Linked DNA regions of Homo sapiens: all the other regions are reported to be linked to region 6. Evidence: microRNA targets listed by miRTarBase, many of them from high-throughput screens and not tested one by one. Region 6 holds a microRNA gene; each other region holds the end of a gene's coding sequence.
The links. The annotated mature microRNA hsa-miR-6884-5p reads AGAGGCUGAGAAGGUGAUGUUG and lies in region 6 at 2,076-2,097, shown strand. An mRNA with a match to its seed (bases 2 to 7 or 8) in the 3' UTR can be bound and repressed. Matches are read on the target gene's strand: a 7mer-m8 pairs with bases 2 to 8, a 7mer-A1 pairs with bases 2 to 7 and ends in A, and an 8mer does both.

Region 1 (3,146 bases), not on the chromosome of region 6:
TCCACAGGTCAGATTTGGCCCTTGGGCCACCAGTTTGAGACCCTGGTCTGCGCGAGGGTTGCAGCAGGAGAGCCCTAGTCTAGGGAGCAGGAAGCCGGGATCCCAGGAACTTCCTGGAGGATGTGGGGCAGAGGGCAGAGGGTGGGGCTGAGGCAGGCGAGGACGGTGTGCTGTGTTCTGGAGGGCAGTGGGGACAGCAGGGGAACAGGGTGACCCCAGGACCTGGAGGGCCTTGGCATGAGGAGTTTGGATTCGATCCCGAGAACCTGGAGCTTGTACGGATTGTTGGGGGGCAGCAGGGGTTACTCTGGGAGAGGGCATGGAGAGTCGGAACAGCACCCCAATGCCATCTGCCCCCAGGCCGAGAGGTGAGCCCAGCGCATCAGTATGCTCTGGCTGGAGGCATCTCCTTCCCCTTCTTCTGGCTGGCTGGTGCGGGCTCGGCCGTCTTCTGGGTGCTGGGTGAGTACAGGGTCTGAGCAGCTGGGGTGGATGGTGGGAGCCAGGTGCAGGAGTGTGGCCCTGAGCTGCCGGCTTTCCTGCAGGAGCCACCCTGGTGGTCATCGGCTCCCACGCTGCCTTCCACCAGATTGAGGCTGTGGACGGGGAGGAGCTGCAGATGGAACCCGTGTGAGGTGTCTTCTGGGACCTGCCGGCCTCCCGGGCCAGCTGCCCCACCCCTGCCCATGCCTGTCCTGCACGGCTCTGCTGCTCGGGCCCACAGCGCCGTCCCATCACAAGCCCGGGGAGGGATCCCGCCTTTGAAAATAAAGCTGTTATGGGTGTCATTCAGGAAATATTCCCCCAGCATCTTCTGTGGGTCTCTATGGGTGGAGCTGGGAATACTGCACAGAGCAGGGTTGGGGTGGAACCTGGGGTGTGGGCAAGACGATGACAAGGTAAACAGGTAAAATATTATGGGATGCCCAATGGTGGTGAGTGTTCAGGAGGAGAAAAGAGTTGAGAAGGACAGTGTGCCGGGGGTCCCCGAGACCACCCCCAGGTTTGATGGTTCTTTAGGACTCAGGAATCAGAGAGCACCCCAGGTTTGATGGTTCTCTGGGACTGGGGACTCAGTATGCAATTGCACTCACAGCTCTGATTTACTCTCATCAAAGGGTATGGAGCCAAGTCAGCCAAAAGGAAAGGTGCATGGAGTGAACTCGGGAAACCAGGCATGCACTTCCAGAGGCCACACCTAATTCCTCCAGCAGTGGATCATGGTGACGTGTGAAATGTCAGCCAGGGACACTCTGATCCTAGCCTCAGCGCCCTTGGTTTCATGGGGGCGGCCACAAGAGCACCTTCTCTCCAACATATACCAAAATGCCAGGCTCCCAGAAAGAAGGCCTGTGCCTGCACGAACAGCCTAGATAGATGCAGCAAGCCACTCTAGGCCTGCACGAACAGCCTAGATAGATGCAGCGAGCCACTCTATCAGGAAGTGATAAGACCCCCCCCCCAACACCCAAGTTCCCAGCCAAGGACCAACTGTGCACCCAGGCCTGTCTAAGGACAGCAGTCTGTTGTGGAGCCTGCCAGGTTAACTCTTTTCTGCACAGAGAAAGTTCGGGAATGAGTTGTGGGTTAAAGAGGGTGACCAGAAAAGGCCTCCCTGACGTGACATTCACCAAAGACCTAAATTGAGAGAGGGAGCAGCCCAGATCCTTTGGAGGAAGAATAATTGGGGCAGAGGAAGCCACAGGGGCATAGCCTGGGAGATGGCAGCAGCCAGGAGGCTCGAGGGCAGCCAGGAGGTGGGCGTGGCTGGGGCAGATAAGCGAGGGGGACAGTGTGGGAGGCCAGGGAGCCTTGTGGGCCACGGTGAGGGCTTTGGGTTTTACTCTGCTTGAGATGAAAGACACAGTTTGCTTTTGTGAGATGGATTTTGCTTTGTTTCCCAGGCTGGTCTCAAATTCCTGGGCTCAAGCGATTCTCCCCCTGCAGCCTCCCATAGTGCTGGGACTACTGGTGTGAGCCACTGTGTCCAGCCCAGTTTGCTTCTTGCCTTTTGTTTTTTTGAGACAGGGTCTCACTTTATGGCCCAGGCTGGAGTGCAGTGGTGTGACCACTGCTCACTGCAGCATCTACCTCTTGGGCTCAAGTGAGCCTCCCACCTCAGCCTCCTGAGCAGCTGGGACCACAGGTGCACGCCACCACACCCAGCTAATTTTTTTTAACTTTTCATTAGACAGGGTCTCACTATGTTGCCTGGCCTGGTTTCAAACTCCTGGGCTGAAGCAATCCTCCTGCCTCAGCCTCTCAAAGTTCTGGGATTACAGGCATGAGCCACCGTGCCGGGTCCAGTTTGCCTTTCATCATGAGGTGGAGACTGCCACGTGGTAGCAGTAACAAAAGAGAAACACACTTGGGAGGGAAAGTGCCAGGCAGATGAAGACAAGGGAGGTGGCCGAGAGGGCCTAAGAAGTGACTTGATTTTTTTATTTTTATTTATTTGTTTATTTTTTTGAGATGGAGTCTCTCTCTGTCGCCCACGCTGGAGAGCAATGGTGTGATTTCGGCTCACTGTAACCTCCACTTCCAAGATTCAAGCTATTCTCCTGCCTCAGCCTCCCAGGTAGCTGGGATTATAGGTGCCCACCAACACGCCTGACTAATTTTTGTATTTTTAGTTTTATTTTTTAATTTTTTTGAGATGGAGTTTCGCTCTTGTTGCCCATGCTGGAGTGCAATGGCGCGATCTCGACTCACTGCAACCTCCACCTCCCGGTTTCAAGTGATTCTCCTGCCTCAGCCTCCCGAGTAGCTGGGATTACAGGCGCCTGCCACCACGCCCGGCTGATTTTTTTGTATTTTTGGTAGAGACAGGGTTTCACTGTGTTGCCCAGGCTGGTCTCGAACTCCTGACCTCAGGTGATCCACCTGTCTTGGCCTCCCAAAGTGCTAGGATTACATGTGTGAGCCACCGTGCCCCGCCAATTACTTTAGATAGGGGTGGTCTGGGAGGGCTCTCTGAGGAGACACAAGAAGTGGGTGGAGTTTCCCAAGGAGAGGGACAGCGAGTGCCAAGGCCTCAGGGATGCAGCCTCTCCAACCTCGTGTCTCCTCAGCAGAACTCACCCACTCATCCTTGATGCAGCAGGTGCTCACCCAGAGCCCACTGATGCCCACTGTTCTGGAATTCT
Region 2 (3,000 bases), not on the chromosome of region 6:
ACAGTGCTAGCCACTCGTCATGGGGGGCATCTAGATTTTCAAGTGACCACTCCCCGTTACTAAATTCTGGCAAATGATCCGAATTTTTCAAGAACACGGGGCCATCCCATCAAAACCAACACATCCCCACACATGGCTGAACTCAGTCCGGTGTAGGGTTGGGTGCACGTAGTGTGGTGTCCTGGCCGCGTGGCCTCACTCGTTTCCCCTTTGAGAGGGAGTCGCAGATGCTGTAGGGGAGCTGGTGAGTAGGCCTTGTGGGAGTCACCTGGCCCCCGTGCCAAGGCCGCACCCACCCTGCCCCACAGACTACTGCCAGAACTTCGCCCCCAACTTCAAGGAGAGCGAGATGAATGCCATCGCGGCCGACATGTGCACCAACGCCCGCCGCGTCGTGCGCAAGAGCTGGATGCCCAAGGTCAAGGTGCTCAAGGCTGAGGATGACGCCTACACCACCTTCATCAGTGAAACGGGCAAGATCGAGCCGGACATGATGGGTGTGGAGCATGGCTTCGAGACCGCCAGCCACGAGGGCGAGGCGGGTCCCTCGGCTGAAGCCCTGCAGTAACCCGCCCAGCCTCCCGCGGGGCCACACACTTCCCCTCCCAACACACACACACACCTGCCATCTTGGTCATGAGCTACTGTCTGTCCCTCCCCAGGACCCGCGGTGGGTGCTGCATGTTCCCGGCCCTCTGCCCCTCCTGTCCTACCCCCTTTCCCCACCGAGAGCTGGGCCGGGAGAGGACCGCAGGGCAGGTGGCGTGAGGTCCGTGTTGCCTTCTTTAACACACACTCGTGCAGTGGGGGAGTTCTGGCTCCCCAACCTAACCCCTAGCCGTCATCTCCACACTCACCAGGCCCACCAGGGGAGGGGGCTGGCCTGGGGGTCTTGGGAAGGCCCCTCCCCAGGCCCTAGGCCACCTCGCGGAAGCCTTCAGCCTCCGCCCCTCACTGCAGCCCCTTGGGACTTGAGGGGGGCCCCAGGGGTTCTCAGGACCCCTCCCACCACCTCCCAGTGCTTCCACGTCTCCAAAAGCGCCTTCCTGTCACCCTCGTCTATCCCTGCGCCTGGGGGCTGGGGTAGGCGAGGCCGTGGGGACTACCCATTTTATAGCTGGGGAAACAGGCTCCGAGAAATTGCACAACCGACCTCAGGTGGCCGGCAGTGGCGTGCCTGGTGCCCTTTCTCCTCTTCCGCCTCTGTTGCTCCCTTTGGTCCTCTGGGGCCTCAGAGAGGCAGGTCCTAAAGGAGGGGGGGTCTCCTGGGGGCAGACCGAGGGTCTCGGAGGATAGAATGAGAGGTTTCCAGGGCTGGCAGAGTGTGTGCGTGTGTGTGTGCAGAAGTTTTGCTTTCAAACAAATGAAGATACAAGAGGCAGTAGGACCTGGGTTGGAACCCAGGGGAGCAGACTGGGGGGCTGTTGCCCCTCCCTCCATCTCCCCACACCCACCCCACCCCACAGCAGGGCTCCTGGCCCCCACCCCCCTGTACATAATTTTTAAAACCTTTTTTTAGCGAATGAAATATTGAAGTATAAGATTCCTTTTATTTTTCAAACCAATGGGGCTGTGTCTATTGTCCCCCTCGGTCCCCAGGGGTGGGGGGCCTTGGAAGGCAGGGCGGTGTTGGGGGGCTGGGGGGCAGGCTGAATGTGTGTGTGTGGGTGTGTATGTGTGGAGTGTGTGTGTGTGTTTCCATGGTAGGACTCCAGTCCCAGCTGCTGCCTAGGCTCCTGTGGGTCCTGTGGGTCCCCCTCCCCTGTTCACCTTCCCCAACAGGGCTATAGTTTAAGGGTGTCCCAGGCCTTGGCTGGTTGGCTGGGCCCAGCTCCTGGGGGCTGGGCAGGGCAGGGCAGGGCCGGGTCCACTTCCATTGTTAGCAGTTGTTTGCAGAATTTTCTCTTTTACCATTCCTCTCTTTTTGTTCTCGCCCAGAGTGGGTGGTTTTTTGTTGTTGTTTTAGATTTTCATGTGAAGGCAGTTTTTTTTCTTTTTTAACTCCCCATCCCCCTATGCAGGGTGTCATTTCACCATCCACATCCACATCCTTGTTTGTGTTTCTGGCCCTCGTCCTCCCTGCCTCTCATCTGCCTCCCCAACCCCCACCTACCCACTGCTCCCAGGGGTCTCTCCAGGGGCAGGGGGATTTTAGGAGATGGGGTGGGGGCCAGCCCCTACTGGACCCTTGTAATCTGATTTGGAGACCATCCCCCCGATGGGACCAGCAGCCCCGCCGGCCCACTGGGGGTCCCTCTTAACATCTGCTTGTTGCGGGGGTCAGTCATGAGTGCCAGGGTCTGGCTGGGGTCTTGGCACTGTCTTCCTGGCCGGGGCCTGAAACCTTAGCCCCCAGCCGGCCTGAGTGGGGGATATTGACACCCCCAGCTAAAGCACAAGCACCTTAGTCACCCCTCCTCTCCCCCCGCCTCCTGGCCTGCCACCCCACCCCAGCGTTTACCCCAAAGCACAATGCCCTGGTCACTTGGCAAGCGGCTGGGCCTGACGGAGGCCGAGGGGCAGACCGGGGCTCCAGCCAGACCCCTGAAAGGAAGGTGCTCCCCCACTTCCAGGCCTTAGTTGGGGTGGGGGGGCCAGCTCCTGGGCCTGGGGTCTTCTCACCCCCACCCCCTTGTCCTGGGTAGGCCCCTGCCTGCCCCTCTCTGCCTTTTCCTCGGGTGTCCCTCCTCGAGCCCCTGTGGCATTGGCTTGGGTGGCAGAGCCCACTTGTTTCAGGGACCCCAGGAGGTGCCCCCTGGCTCCCAGGACTGTGTGTGGGTCCGGGGGGTGGGGGGGTGGGGAGAAGGGTCGGGCAGGGGGTGCAGGGGAGGAAACTCCTCACCAGGAGAGCCAAAGACAGGGTTGTGCCTTACCCCAGGAGCCACCCCTGTACCCCCCTTGCCCTGCCATTCACCCTCCACCCCTACCCCTGGGCGGCCTGCTGCTTTTTCCTTCTCTTCCTCCCCTGCCCTGAGCTGCATGGTTCCCCCACCCTGGGCA
Region 3 (3,142 bases), not on the chromosome of region 6:
TGGCTCACGTCTATAATCCCAGCACTTTGGGATGCCGAGGCAGGTGGATCACCTGAGGTCAGGAGTTTGAGACCAGGTTGGCCAACATGGTGAAACTTCGTCTCTACTAAAAATACAAAAAAAAAATTGCCTGGCTTGGTGGTGGGCGCCTGTAATCCCCGCTACTCGGGAAGCTGAGGTAGGAGAATCGCTGGAACCCAGGAGATGGAGGTTGCAGTGAGCTGAGATCATGCCATTGCACTCCAGCCTGGGCAACAAGAGTGAAACTCCGTTGCAAAAAAAAAAAAAAAAAGAAAAGAAAAGAAAAGAGAAAGAAAAAGAAAAATCCCCACAGTGCAGATCGACAAAATCACAGAGTTGCTTTGGGAGCGAGGGTGGCAATCAGACACGGAGGCCATGACACAACCTGCTTATCCACTCAGGGGTCCAGAACCTCCACCCAGTCACCTTATCCGGGGGTGATGGAGACAGGGGAGGTGCCACCTACGCCAGTGTCATCTCTTACAATGAGCTCTTCTCCTGCTCGAAAAGAGCCAGCCTGCTGAGCTTGCTGCCAGGGCCCGTCGCACTGCCTGCGCTGTGTTGCCCGTCGCACAGCCTGTGATATGTGTTTCCCATCATGTGTGCATGTGTGTTGTCATGTAGTGTCTGTCACAGGTGTTACCCGTCACGTGTGTTTGCATGTTGCATGTGTGTGGCCTATCAGGTGTAAATATGTGTTGTCTGGCACATGTCAGCATCTGGGCATTCTCCGTGTGCCAGGAGCAGCCAGGTGGCCTGTGAAGCCTTCTCATGGGAAATGCCCAGATAGGAAGAGCACAGCCAGGAGCCAAGCCCCTGAGTGGCCACTCCATGTGCCTGGATCACCTTCAAGTCTGCTCAACATCACAGCCTCTGTTCCTTGGCACCATGGACATTGGAATTGACTCGGAACTGGGAAGAGCTGTAGGCCCACTATCCAGGCACCTGCTCCCCGTTTGCCCAGCATCCCAGGGGCCCACACCCTTCCAAATATCACCTTGCCCTCCATTCAGAGGTGAATCATCTGAGCGTCAGGTTGCCCAACTCCGACTGGTTTTGCTGGAGCCTGCCTAGAGGATGTCGCCAGCCACCTCCAGAGAACACTCAGTCTACAGATGCCGAGGGGGAACTGGAAGCACACAGTGCTGGCCTTCACCCAGGTTATGGTGGCACCTCGGGACCGCTTCTGAGTCTGCTTGTCACTGAAGGTCGGCGTGAGGCAGGCAGCGTTCCCTCCCAGATTTAGAAAATGTCAAGTCTCCCGCCGCACCCTTTTGTGTTTCTTACAGGGCCTGGTGCGCTTGCTGCCGCCACACTAAGGGCTCCAACATGTTCCCTCACACACTCAACAGAGAAGGAACCTGTGGCTCAGATGGCAGACTCCCTGTCCAAGGCCACAGAGTCTGGCCCCAGGGACCACTAGAGGCTTCAAGAACCAAACTCACATGAGGGCAGAGAGGAGAGATGGGGCCAGTTTAGGGCTGGGAGAATCCATAGAGCGATGCTGAGGCAGGCATGGAGCCTGGAGGTACGGACGAGGGTCTCGCCAAAGTCAGGGGTAAAGAGGCTGTGGGGAGTGAGGAATGGTGTGGGCCAGCCCCGGGCCTGCTGGGGTGCAGCTGGGGGCTCCATGGCCCTCCCACGGCCCCCACTTGTCCTCACCCAACCGTTCAGAGCTCTTCATGGCGGGGGTGTCCTCTCCTCTGGCCACAAGAGGAGCGGGTGGAGGAACGGCACCTTCAGGCCTTGTAGGGGGTCTGCCCCTCCACCAGCCTGTTTCTCGTGGGCATCGCAGCTGAGGCTGTAGCCGGGAAAGGGTAGTCACCGAGCGTACCTGGCCTCCAACCACCACTTCCAAGGCCCCTACTGGGCACAGGGTGACCCCACCGTGGCTCGGAAGTGGACCCTGTCCGACGCGGGGGTGGTCGCTGGAGGGCGGAGGATGCCTACACAGGCCTCTGGAGGGTGTGTCTCGGGAGTCTGTCTCGCCCTCTGGACCCATGGGGGACCAGCAACGCCGTCACACCCTCCTCTGTCTCTGCCAGCCGCTCCGCCGCTCCCTTCTCCTGGCTGGGGCTGGCAAAGGCAGGCAGGTATGGGGGGGCGGGGCCTCAGGAGGGAGGAAGGGCTGGTGGGCGGGGCCTACGGACACCTCGCCCCGCCCCCAGTAGGGCGCGGCACTCCCCACACCACGCGGTCCCCCTAGGTCAGGGCCTGTCACCACTGCGCCCAGAGGCCGGGCCAGCCGTGCGTGCATCCCAGGGCATCCGTGCATCCGTCCCCCGCGGCCTGGGACTCCCCAGTCAGGACAGTACAAAATCTCTTTATTGCTCATTTTCTGTAAAAAATCGTGGCTCTCGGCGGACCCTGGGGATAGGAGGTGCAAAGTGCGCTCACACGCGGCCCGGGTCCGCGGCCGAGAGCTGTGGGGATCTGGAGCGGGCCGGGTCGCAAGAAGACCCTGACCGTGCTCCGGCGCTGGGGCGCGTGCTAAGGGCCCGCGGGGTTTCAGCTGTATTTTCGAACCCCTGTGCTTGGCCGAGGGGTTCCCAAGGCTCCACTCCGCCTTGGAGGGGGCTGCGGAAGCCCGGAGGTGACCTGGGCTCTGGGAGGGGCGTCCCCAACGTGGGGGAGGGGAGACAGGGGCCTTTGAAGACAGCGCGGGACTCGGAGGGGGTCCCCCCGACCTCAGACGTGGTAAACTGAGGCCGGCGAGGAGGGAGGCTGAGTCCGGGGACCAGGCGGCCCCTCACTGCTCCTCCGGCCCGTCTCCCCCCTGCGCCTGTTCGTACGGGCAGGGCCGGCGGCCGAGTCCAGCGGGCTCGGGGCCAGGCCTGGGCCCTGCGGGCGGCGCCTCCTCCTCCGCGCCGTCCCCATGCTCGCCCTCCGCGTCGCTCTCGTCCGAGTTGTCCTCCTCCAAGTAGCGGTAACCGCGCACCTTGTGCTGGGGCCGCGGGATGCGGGGCTGGCGCGGGGCCACGCCCCGGCGCAGCTTCTGCTCCATCCGCAGGTAGGAGACCGCGGCCGCCACCAGCGTCACCAGCAGCACCGCCAGCTTAGCCTGGGCGTAAGGAGAGGGATGCCAGGGACCCGCGGCCGCCTCGCCCCGCACCTTCCCCGC
Region 4 (3,148 bases), not on the chromosome of region 6:
TACGTGTCTAACTTCAATCCCTGGGAGAAGAGACAGATTTGAATCCTCCACGGCACATAGCTCAGTCTCTCTTCTGCGGCAGCTGCCCAACATATATGCCAAGATGAGCGAATTATTTTTGTCCGAGCTACTTTATGAAACTCATTCTGCCCCACTCCAGAAATGGAAGGGATCTGTCAAACGTTCAGACTCCCCTTGCTCACAGCAGCATCAACATTGTCTCCTTGTTTCCTTCATTCATCTAACAAATGTTTACTGAGCCCCTGGTATGTGCCAGGTACTGTTCTTGGCACTAGGGAAACCATAATGGGCAAAATCTTTCATTCTAGTTGGAGGACTCAGATAATAAAGAAAACAAAATATGTATGACGTTCAATTGTGATCAGCACTATAAAGTACGTCAAAGTACAGAAGGGGAGACTGAATTTGTAGGCAGCATGGTCATGGTAGACCTCGCTGAGAAGGGGCATGAAGGTGGAGGTAGAGGGTTTAGACAAGTGGATATGTAGAGGAGAAGGCTTCTGAGCAGACTAAGCAATGCACAGAAAGGTCCCAAGGCAAGAGCAGGCCCAGCGCATTCAAGGGACAAGAAAGACGTCCGTGTGGCTGCGGTGCAGTCAGCAAATTAAGGAGGCAGGGGAGGGGCGCAGGTCGTGCACGGCTTTGCAGCTGTTGTCGGAGCTTTTCTTCTGAGTGAAATGGGAGGATTGGAGCAAAGAAGTGGTGTGGTCTGCCTTATGTTGTAAAAAGACAGCCCTGGCTGACACACTGGGACTAGACTGGGGTGGGGGCTGAGCTGGAAACAGGGAGACCTGTAGTAGTGCAGGTGAGAGATGATGGCATCGTGGACCATCTCGGTGGTAGCACTGGAGATGCTGAGGAGGGGCCACATTCTGGGCACAGTTTGATGGCCTTAGAGCCAGCAGAATTTCCTGGTGCAAAATGTGAGAGGGGAATAAAGACGGTGCCGAGGATTTCGGCCTGAGCACCTGAAGGATGCAACTGACGTTAACTGAGATGGGGAAGATGCAGGTGGGGCAGGTCCAGAGGAAAAGATCAGAACTTCGATTTTAGAAATGTGGAGGCCAGGAGCAGTGCTCATTAACTGGAATCCCAGCACTTTGGGAGGCCGAGGTGGGTGGATCACTTGAGGTCAGGAGTTTGAGACCAGGCTGGCTGACACGGTGAAACTCCGTCTCTACTAAAAATTCAAAAAATTAGCCGAGCATGGTGGTGGCACCTGTAGTCCCAGATACTCAGGAGGCTGAGGCAGGAGAATCACGTGAACCCAAGAGGTGGAGCTTGCAGTGAGCTGAGATCACGCCACTGCACTCCAGCCTGGGTGACAGAGCCAGGCTCCTTTCCATCTCAAAAAGAAAAAAAAAAAGAAAGAAATGTTGAATGTGAGGTATGTATTTCATCAACATCCAAGTGGAGAGATTAAGAATTGAAATGAATACACAGTATACATTAATAATAATAGCTGTATATAAGGCTGGGCACAGTGGCTCATGTCTGTAATCCCAGCACTTTGCGAGTCTGAGGCAGGAGGACTGCTTGAGCTCAGAAGATCGAGACCAACCTGCTCAACATGGTAAAGCCCCTTTTTTACAAAACAAAGTACAAAAATTAGCCAGCTGTGGTCCCAGCTCCTCAGGAGGCTGAGGTGGGAGGATCACTGGAGCTGGGAGGTGGAGGCTGCAGTGAGCCATGGTCGCACCACTGCACTGCAGTTTGGGTGAGAGTGAGACCCTGTCTCAATTTTAAAAAATAAATCGTTGTATCTAAGAGGTGGGATTATAGAAAAGTTTTTCTTTCTCCTCTTCCCACTTCTTACTTTGCTTGGTCTTTGGAATATTTCAAAATTTTGAAATCATAAACAAGTTTTACTTTTATTTTAAATTTATTTATTTATGAGACAGAGTCTTGCCCTTTTGCCCAGGCTGGGGTGCAGTGGTAGGATCTTGGGTCACTGCAACCTCTGCCTCCCGGGTTCAAGTGATTCTCCCGTCTCAGCCTCCTGGGTAGCTGGGATTACAGGCACCTGCCACCACACCCAGCTAATTTTCGTGTTTTTAGTAGAGACGGGGTTTCACCATGTTGGCCAGGCTAGTCTCAAACTCCTGACCTCGTGATCCACCGGCCTCGGCCTCCCAAAGTGCTGGGATTACAGGCGTGAGCCACTGAGCCTGGCCAAGTTTTACTTTTATAATAAAAAGTAAACCATATTAATTTTTTAAAAAAATAATAGCATGTAAGTTATAACATATAAGAGGAATAATTGAGGCTTGTGTCCAGAACTTGAAATTTAAATTTAGGTCAATTCCACATTCTCTGCGATCCCACTGCAGGCCAGACACTCTGCTAGTTCAGGGGATACTGAGATGAACAAAGGTGGTCCCTGCCCTGCTGCAGCGGGCTGTTCGACAGGCTCCAGGCCCGTCTCAGTAAATGCTATCATCAAAGTCCAAACCAAGACCTGGGGGAGTAGAAGGAGGAGGTAGCAGTGAGACTATACACAATCCCTGTACTATAAAAATGGCGAAAGCATGCAGATCAATAGACAGCCTCTGGGCCACACTGAGTGAATTTTAATGCAGGATGGAAGCACACAGATGGGTGATCAGGTCTCTCTTTACTGAAACACAGAACATGTGCCAAGGTGAGTCCAAGGACACCTCTGGGAACAGGTGAAGCCCCTCCCCACACATACACTCCGGTGGATGTGAGCGAGGGTCCTGTTGCCACATCTGGGGTCAGGGGCTTGGACATGCTGCCCTTCATGGGAACCTTCTGGGTACCTCTCAGCACAGTAACGCAGCTGCAGTCTGTCGGTGGGGGCCCAGGCTAGGGGCAGCACCCTCTTTTGGCATACGGGACATGCCTGGCTGCAGCTGATGTCCGTTAGCCTCTCCTGACACGCAGTAAGGAGACCTGGAAGTGAGGCGCGTGGGCGTGGAGTTCCCGGTGGAGCTGGAGAGCAAAAGAGCCAGCTGTCCTTTCAGCCCATCTGGCCCATGAGCTCGCCAGAGGCAGAGGACAGGAAGGGACACTGGGGCAGAGTGCATGCGGAGGACGGCAACCCTTCCTGGGCCTCCTACATGCTGGACACAGGCTGGTGCCTCACACACATTATGTCATCTAAACC
Region 5 (3,000 bases), not on the chromosome of region 6:
GGTAGGCAGGTTGACCCTGGGTTCGGGAGGGACACAGGCCCTGGATGACACTGAGCTGGATGCCTAGGCAGTGTCACTCCCCACACTTTCAACCTGAGCCCCACAGCAAGCCTATAAGGTGAACATTCTCACTGTGATTTGTCAGGCTGGGTTCAGGGAGTGAAATGGCCTCCTCCAATTCCACAGGTTCAAATACCCTGCAGAGCGGCACCAGCCTCCCTCAGAAAGGACCAGACACTTGTAACATTTATGTCCTTTACCTGGGACACTGCTGTCCCATACTTGCTGTATGAAAAGAATATTTCTCAAGAGGAAGAGGAAGCCAGGCGCAGTGACTCACGCCTGTAATCCCAGCACTTTGGGAGGCTGAGCCAGGAGGATCGCTTGAGCCCAGGAGTTTGAGACCAGCCTGGGTAACATGGCAAAACCCCGTCTCTACAAAAATCAGCCAGAAAGGCATAGATAGACCCAAATCCCAGTCTTTAGCCTGGCCCAACCACCTGAGAATGGTCTCTACCCAGGATTCCTTCACTCAATTACACCCTACTCTTTGCCTCCTGCCACAGACAGAGAGAGAGAGCGCTACGCTACCACAGCCAGCTTCCTCCCAGGGCCAGGAAAGCTCCACCTTGTCCCCCTCTCACAGTTCCTAAAATTCTTCCATTCATCTATTTGGCCTCTTAAGTATTTACTCTGTTTTCAAATACATATATAACTCCAGCTTATAATACCAAGTCAAAGGTAGTCTTTCACACCATAGCATGAATTTGATTGTCAGCTATTTAAGGAAGGAGGCAGGGAAAGTGGAATGGGGGGTACTCTGAAGAGGCCAGGCCTGGGTATTGGAGGTTGGAGGACCACCCAAAAAAAGCCTGAGGGGAGAAGGAAATGTAAGCAGACACGACACATAGGTAAAACGAAGAAAGGTACAGGAGTCTCCTATTAGGAAAAAAAGGGGGAGGCTGGGTGTGATAGCTCACGCCTGTAATCTCAGCACTTTGGGAGCACAAGGAAGGTGGATCACTTGAGGTCAGGAGTTCAAGACCAGCCTGGCCAATATGGTGAAACCTGTCTCTACTAAAAATACAAAAATTAGCCAGCCGTAGTGGCACACACCTGTAATCCCAGCTACTTGGGAGGCTGGGGTGGGAGAATCGCTTGAACCCAGGAGGTCGAGGTTGTAGTGAGCCGAGATCACGCCACTGCACTCCAGCCTGGGCGACAGAGTGAGACCCTGCCATAAAAAAAAAAAAAAGTTGGGGGGGGGGTGGGGAGAGGGAAGAGGCCAGGCACTGTGGCTCACGCCTGTAATCCCAGCACTTTGGGAGGCTGAGGTGGGCGGATTACCTGAGGACAGGAGTTCGAGACCAGCCTGGCCAACATGGTGAAGCCTCGTCTCTACTAAAAATACAAAAATTAGCTGGGCGTGGTAGCAGGAACCTGTAATCCCAGCTACTCAGGAGGCTGAGGCAAGAGAATCACTTGAACCCAGGAGGCAGAGGCTTCAATAAGCCAAGACCACACCATTGCACTCCAGCGTGGGTGACAAGAGCGAAACTCCATCTCAAAAAAAAAAAAAAAAAGGGAGTGGGGGAAGAAAGGTGAATCTGGGCAAATTTGGGGCTTCACATTGACCCAGCTGGCCCATTTCTAGTGACCTTGAGTCTCTGTATTGATATGTAACTGCCTTTTGGCAGGGAGAGGGGAGGGACATTAGTTTTATTGATTTTGTCTGCAGCCACTTTCTGGGCTCTGATTCTGAGCCAGGGCCTGTCTGCAGTGCTCTATGCTAGAGGCTTGGAGACTAGAGTAACTTAGCTAGAAACCTTGGTCCAACTAGTGGAGAGGTGGGGGAGAAAACCCCCAAATCCCAAGAATCTGCGGAGACTGTGACTAGGGTTATTAAGAGGGGACAGAGGGCCAGGGGACATCTAATACATGAAATGGAATTACCAGCTGCTTGGGCGAGCAATGCCTTGGAGGGCTGGTGGGGCTACACATGTGCAGGTGGTGGGACTTTCTGGGTGTCAGCAACATCCCAGGCAAAGACCCAGAAGTGGGATGTGTAGTATGGGTTTGGAGAACAGGGAGCTAGAACCCAACATTCATGAAGGGAAGTGGGCAGGCTGGAGACAGAGATGGAACCCAGATCCAGAGGGCCACATGCCAGGCTTGGGAGACTGACCTCAGCTTAGGGCAGTGGGGAGTCATGGAAGGGTTTAAGCAGGGGAATCGCTGATGGGAACAGGACCCTCTGACTGCAGGGAGGGAGGCAGAGGATGGGTTAGAGGGGTCAGGGGGGAGATGGCAGTGACAGCACGGAGGTGACCAAGGGTGACAGCCACAGGGATGGAGATCAGGGAATGCAGAGAGTTGGCACAGGCTTCTGGCGGGGAGCAGCTATAATGGCAGGGAGGTAGGGCTCCTGAGCCTTCCTGGAGGAGCCAAGGCCACGGTCATCAGAGTAGGCTCTTCATTGGCTCAGCTTATTGAGAATCATCTTCACCCAGGGCACTCTGGGATCGGCACAGATCTCCTTATCCCTGAAGGTTAGCAACCTGGAAGAAGGAGACCCCAGAGACAATGCAGCAACATTAGCACGCAGCAAGGATGCCACACCCTCGGGAGCTTAGCATTTATGAGCCACCTACTTTATGCAGGGCTCAGCATTTATGAGTCACCTACTACATATGACATTATCTGCTAAATAGAGTGGTTCAAAATTTACAAGCCACCTGTGGTGTGAAAAGAATATTTCTCAGGAGGAAGAGGAGGCCAGGAGTTCACGCCTGTAATCCCAGCACTTTGGGAGGCCGAGGCAGGAGGATTGTTTGAGCCTAGGGGTTTAAGGCCATCCTGGGCAACATGGCAAAACCCTGTCTCTACAAAAACGTACAAGTCAGCCAGGCATGGTGACATCTGCCTGTGATCTCAGCTACTTGGGAGGCTGAGGTGGGAGGATTGCTTGGACTCAGGAGGTCAAGGCTGCAGTGAGCCCAG
Region 6 (3,148 bases):
AACATGGTTCCATTCAGTGAGCCATTCTCTAGGCCTTGGAAATCTTCTAACAATAAAAATCCTTCTGGCCGGGTGCGGTGGCTCACGCCTGTAATCCTAGCACTTAGGGAGGCCAAGGTGGGCGGATCACCTGAGGTCAGGAGTTCAAGACCGGCCTGGCCAACTTGGTGAAACCCTGTCTCTACTAAAAATACAAAAAATTAGCCGGGTGTGGTGGCGGGCACCTGTAATCCCAGCTACTTGGGAGACTGAGGCAGAAGAATTGCTTGAACAGAGGCGGAGGTTGCAGTGAGCTGAGATTGTGCCACTGCACTCCAGCCTGGGTGACAGAGCGAGACTCTTTCTCAAAAAAAACAAAAAAAAAACAAAAAACAAAAACCACAAAAACCTTTTTTCTATAGCAATGTGTCTCATTTTAAGTTTAACCAGTAACTCAGACTCTAGCTATCGCTCTCTGAACATGTGTAGCCCCAGCGCCCAGCTACTGCTCAGCTCATGCCCTGGTCAATGCAGCCTGTCTCCATTCCTTTCAGTTTGAATGAATTCACAACCTATGGCAGCGAAGAAAGCAGTAAGTCAGCCCTGTGCATCCGCAGGCCCAGTGGGCCCTGAGGAGGGGTGTGGCGGGAGAGTGTGGGAGGGAGGAGGGCTCCCCAGCTCAACAGGGGGAGGCTGTGCTCCCTCCTCAGAGCCATGACCAATGGAAGCTTCCACAGAGCTTGAAAGTGGATAATGCTGGAAAAGGATTCTTCCCAGACCATCCCTGTGTCTCCTTCCCCCCCTCATCCCTTTACGACTTGGTTAGGTATGCCAGGAGAGGGTGCTGGGGGTCTTTGGTCTCAAGGAAGGGATGATGTTCCAGTTGAGACTCAAGAAAAGGATTCTGAGCCTCAGAGCTTTGAAGGAGCCACTTGGTCCCTGACCTTCCTAGAGGCAAATCCCGATCCCTGTCAACCCAGACACGGGCTCCCCCCTGCCCTCGTCTGGGAGCTCAGCCTTCCCGTCCTTCCACAGCCAAACCGGCCTCCGTCCGGGCCCTGCTGTTTGACATCTCCTTCCTCATGCTGTGCCATGTGGCCCAGACCTATGGTTCAGAGGTGAGAGAGGGGAGCGACCGGGACGGGGGCTCAAGGGAAGGAGGTAACCCGGAACTCTCCCCACCTCACTGCCTGCGCCCCCGCAGCCTCTCAGCCAGTTAGTTCTGTGGGCCTCAGAAACCAGGTGCCCACCCGGGCTGGAGTCCGTAGAGGCACCTTCAGCCCTATGTTCACATTGACCACTAGGTGGCAGCATTGCCCCCGTCTGGCTCCCTTAGACCAGTTCGTCCCCAGTCTTTGGGCTGGGCTGGAGCAGCAGCCTGGCGGGAAACAGTGCAGCCCCAGGTCCAGCGCTGGCAGGCGCCGCGCCCTCCCCACTCGGCTGGTGCCCCCCTTCCCCTTTCCCAGGTGATTCTGTCCGAGTCGCGCACAGGAGCTGAGGTGCCCTTCTTCGAGACCTGGATGCAGACCTGCATGCCTGAGGAGGGCAAGATCCTGAACCCTGACCACCCCTGCTTCCGCCCCGACTCCACCAAAGTGGAGTCCCTGGTGGCCCTGCTCAACAACTCCTCGGAGATGAAGCTAGTGTCAGTGGCCCGGGCGCCCACTCCAAGGGTGGCGGTGGGGGCAGGGTCAAGACCCGCTCCCTGAGCCCGTTCCTTGCTCCCCTGTGCTGACTTCTCTGCACACCCGCAGGCAGATGAAGTGGCATGAGGCCTGTCTCAGCATCTCAGCCGCCATCTTGGAAATCCTCAATGCCTGGGAGAATGGGGTCCTGGCCTTCGAGTCCATCCAGGTAGCCCCGCCTTCCCAGCAGCGTTTGCTCCCCTGAGACACAGAGCCAGCCAGTGATGACTTGTTATATTTCGTAAGGGCAAGAAGACCTTTAATCCAGGAGCTCATGTTTTGATATTGATATTTTGTGTAATCGTTGTCTTAGCTACTCCCTCTGGCCCAGGTAGCTCTGGGAAGATCAAACTTGTGGAGAGAGGTGTGGAATGTGGCCCGGGACTCCACCCGCTGCACTTAGCTGCCCGCAGAGGCTGAGAAGGTGATGTTGGCTCAAGAAAGGGAGATAGATGGTAGCCCATCACCTTTCCGTCTCCCCTAGAAAATCACTGATAACATCAAAGGGAAGGTATGCAGTCTGGCGGTGTGTGCTGTGGCTTGGCTTGTGGCCCACGTCCGGATGCTGGGGCTGGATGAGCGTGAGAAGTCGCTGCAGATGATCCGCCAGCTGGCAGGGCCACTGTTTAGTGAGAACACCCTGCAGTTCTACAATGAGAGGTCGGTAACCTGCCTTCCCTTCTCAGACCCTTCAAGTGTGTTGTGAGAAGTCAGCACATCCAATAACAAGCACCCCTCTCTTTTCTGACCTTCGCAAACACGCTACTTGATCACTCACTCACTTTCCTATTCATGCATTCACTCATCTGACTCAGCAAACATGTACTGTGTCTCTGTGGCAGAAGCGTTTATATGCCAGCACCTGCTGTGTTGTCAGAAATGCAGACCCTAAACAGGGTCTGCCCGCAGAGACTCAAGTTCTAGACAACTAGCTCCCAAAAGAACAAAGCTGTGTGACTGTCTAGGAGCTAGGAACCTGTCTGTAGATTTTACAGGCCATGCCCCACCCTCAGTTACCTCTTAGGACAGTTTCCTGCCCTGGCTCTTCAGGGGCTTGGAGGACTTCCCTGGTGACCAGTTACGTTGAGTTCATTCACCCAACCAATAAGTTGTTTGCTTTTTTTAATTGTAAAAAACACATAAGATTTGCCATCTTAGCCATGTTTAAGTGTACTGTTCAGTAGTGTTAAGTATATTCACACTGTTGTGTAACAGGTCTCCAGAACTTTCTTGCATCTCTGAAACTCCATACCCACTGAACAACAGCTTCCTATTTTCCCCTCCCTCCAGCTCCTGGTAACTACCATTTTACTTTGTGTGTCTAGGAATTTGACTACTTTATACTTTTTGTTGTTGTTGTTGTTGAGACAAGGTCTTACCCTTGCCCAGATCAGAGTGAGTCTCACTGCAACCTCAAATTCCTGGGCTCAAGTGATCCTCTCGCCTCAGCCTCCCGAGTAGCTGGGACTGCAGGCCCACAGCCG

Region 1: miRTarBase lists RABAC1 as a target of hsa-miR-6884-5p. The part of its 3' UTR that is shown has no 7-base or 8-base seed match.
Region 2: miRTarBase lists NACC1 as a target of hsa-miR-6884-5p. Seed matches in the 3' UTR shown: 7mer-m8 at 575-581 and 7mer-m8 at 939-945.
Region 3: miRTarBase lists UNC93B1 as a target of hsa-miR-6884-5p. Seed matches in the 3' UTR shown: 7mer-m8 at 2,742-2,748.
Region 4: miRTarBase lists MUC20 as a target of hsa-miR-6884-5p. The part of its 3' UTR that is shown has no 7-base or 8-base seed match.
Region 5: miRTarBase lists CCL22 as a target of hsa-miR-6884-5p. Seed matches in the 3' UTR shown: 7mer-m8 at 1,461-1,467, 7mer-m8 at 1,326-1,332, 7mer-m8 at 1,137-1,143, 7mer-m8 at 959-965 and 7mer-m8 at 363-369.

Annotation. Positions count from the first base shown.
Region 1 is chr19:41,954,334-41,957,479 of GRCh38, reverse strand. It overlaps RABAC1 (Rab acceptor 1), which reads left to right. Exons shown (of 5, transcript NM_006423.3): 4 at 361-462; 5 at 546-797. The coding sequence ends at 634. Among named protein-coding and RNA genes, the nearest start is that of RABAC1, 3.4 kb to the left of the region's middle.
Region 2 is chr19:13,137,839-13,140,838 of GRCh38, forward strand. NACC1 (nucleus accumbens associated 1) reads left to right here. Exons shown (of 6, transcript NM_052876.4): 6 at 309-3,000. The coding sequence ends at 568. Among named protein-coding and RNA genes, the nearest start is that of STX10, 11 kb to the right of the region's middle. RefSeq lists an enhancer at 1-40.
Region 3 is chr11:67,988,776-67,991,917 of GRCh38, forward strand. It overlaps UNC93B1 (unc-93B1 regulator of TLR signaling), which reads right to left. Exons shown (of 11, transcript NM_030930.4): 11 at 2,325-3,082. The coding sequence ends at 2,771. Among named protein-coding and RNA genes, the nearest start is that of UNC93B1, 14 kb to the right of the region's middle. RefSeq lists an enhancer at 2,457-3,062.
Region 4 is chr3:195,732,975-195,736,122 of GRCh38, reverse strand. It overlaps MUC20 (mucin 20, cell surface associated), which reads right to left. Exons shown (of 4, transcript NM_001282506.2): 4 at 2,572-2,973. The coding sequence ends at 2,905. Among named protein-coding and RNA genes, the nearest start is that of MUC20, 14 kb to the right of the region's middle. RefSeq lists an enhancer at 503-1,003.
Region 5 is chr16:57,363,062-57,366,061 of GRCh38, reverse strand. It overlaps CCL22 (C-C motif chemokine ligand 22), which reads right to left. Exons shown (of 3, transcript NM_002990.5): 3 at 1-2,558. The coding sequence ends at 2,474. Among named protein-coding and RNA genes, the nearest start is that of CCL22, 5.8 kb to the right of the region's middle.
Region 6 is chr17:40,025,332-40,028,479 of GRCh38, reverse strand. MIR6884 (microRNA 6884) reads left to right here and starts at 2,071; the gene lies at 2,071-2,148. It overlaps MED24 (mediator complex subunit 24), which reads left to right. Exons shown (of 26, transcript NM_014815.4): 15 at 534-571; 16 at 1,015-1,097; 17 at 1,446-1,624; 18 at 1,734-1,833; 19 at 2,149-2,324. SNORD124 (small nucleolar RNA, C/D box 124) reads left to right here and starts at 835; the gene lies at 835-938. RefSeq lists an enhancer at 923-1,833.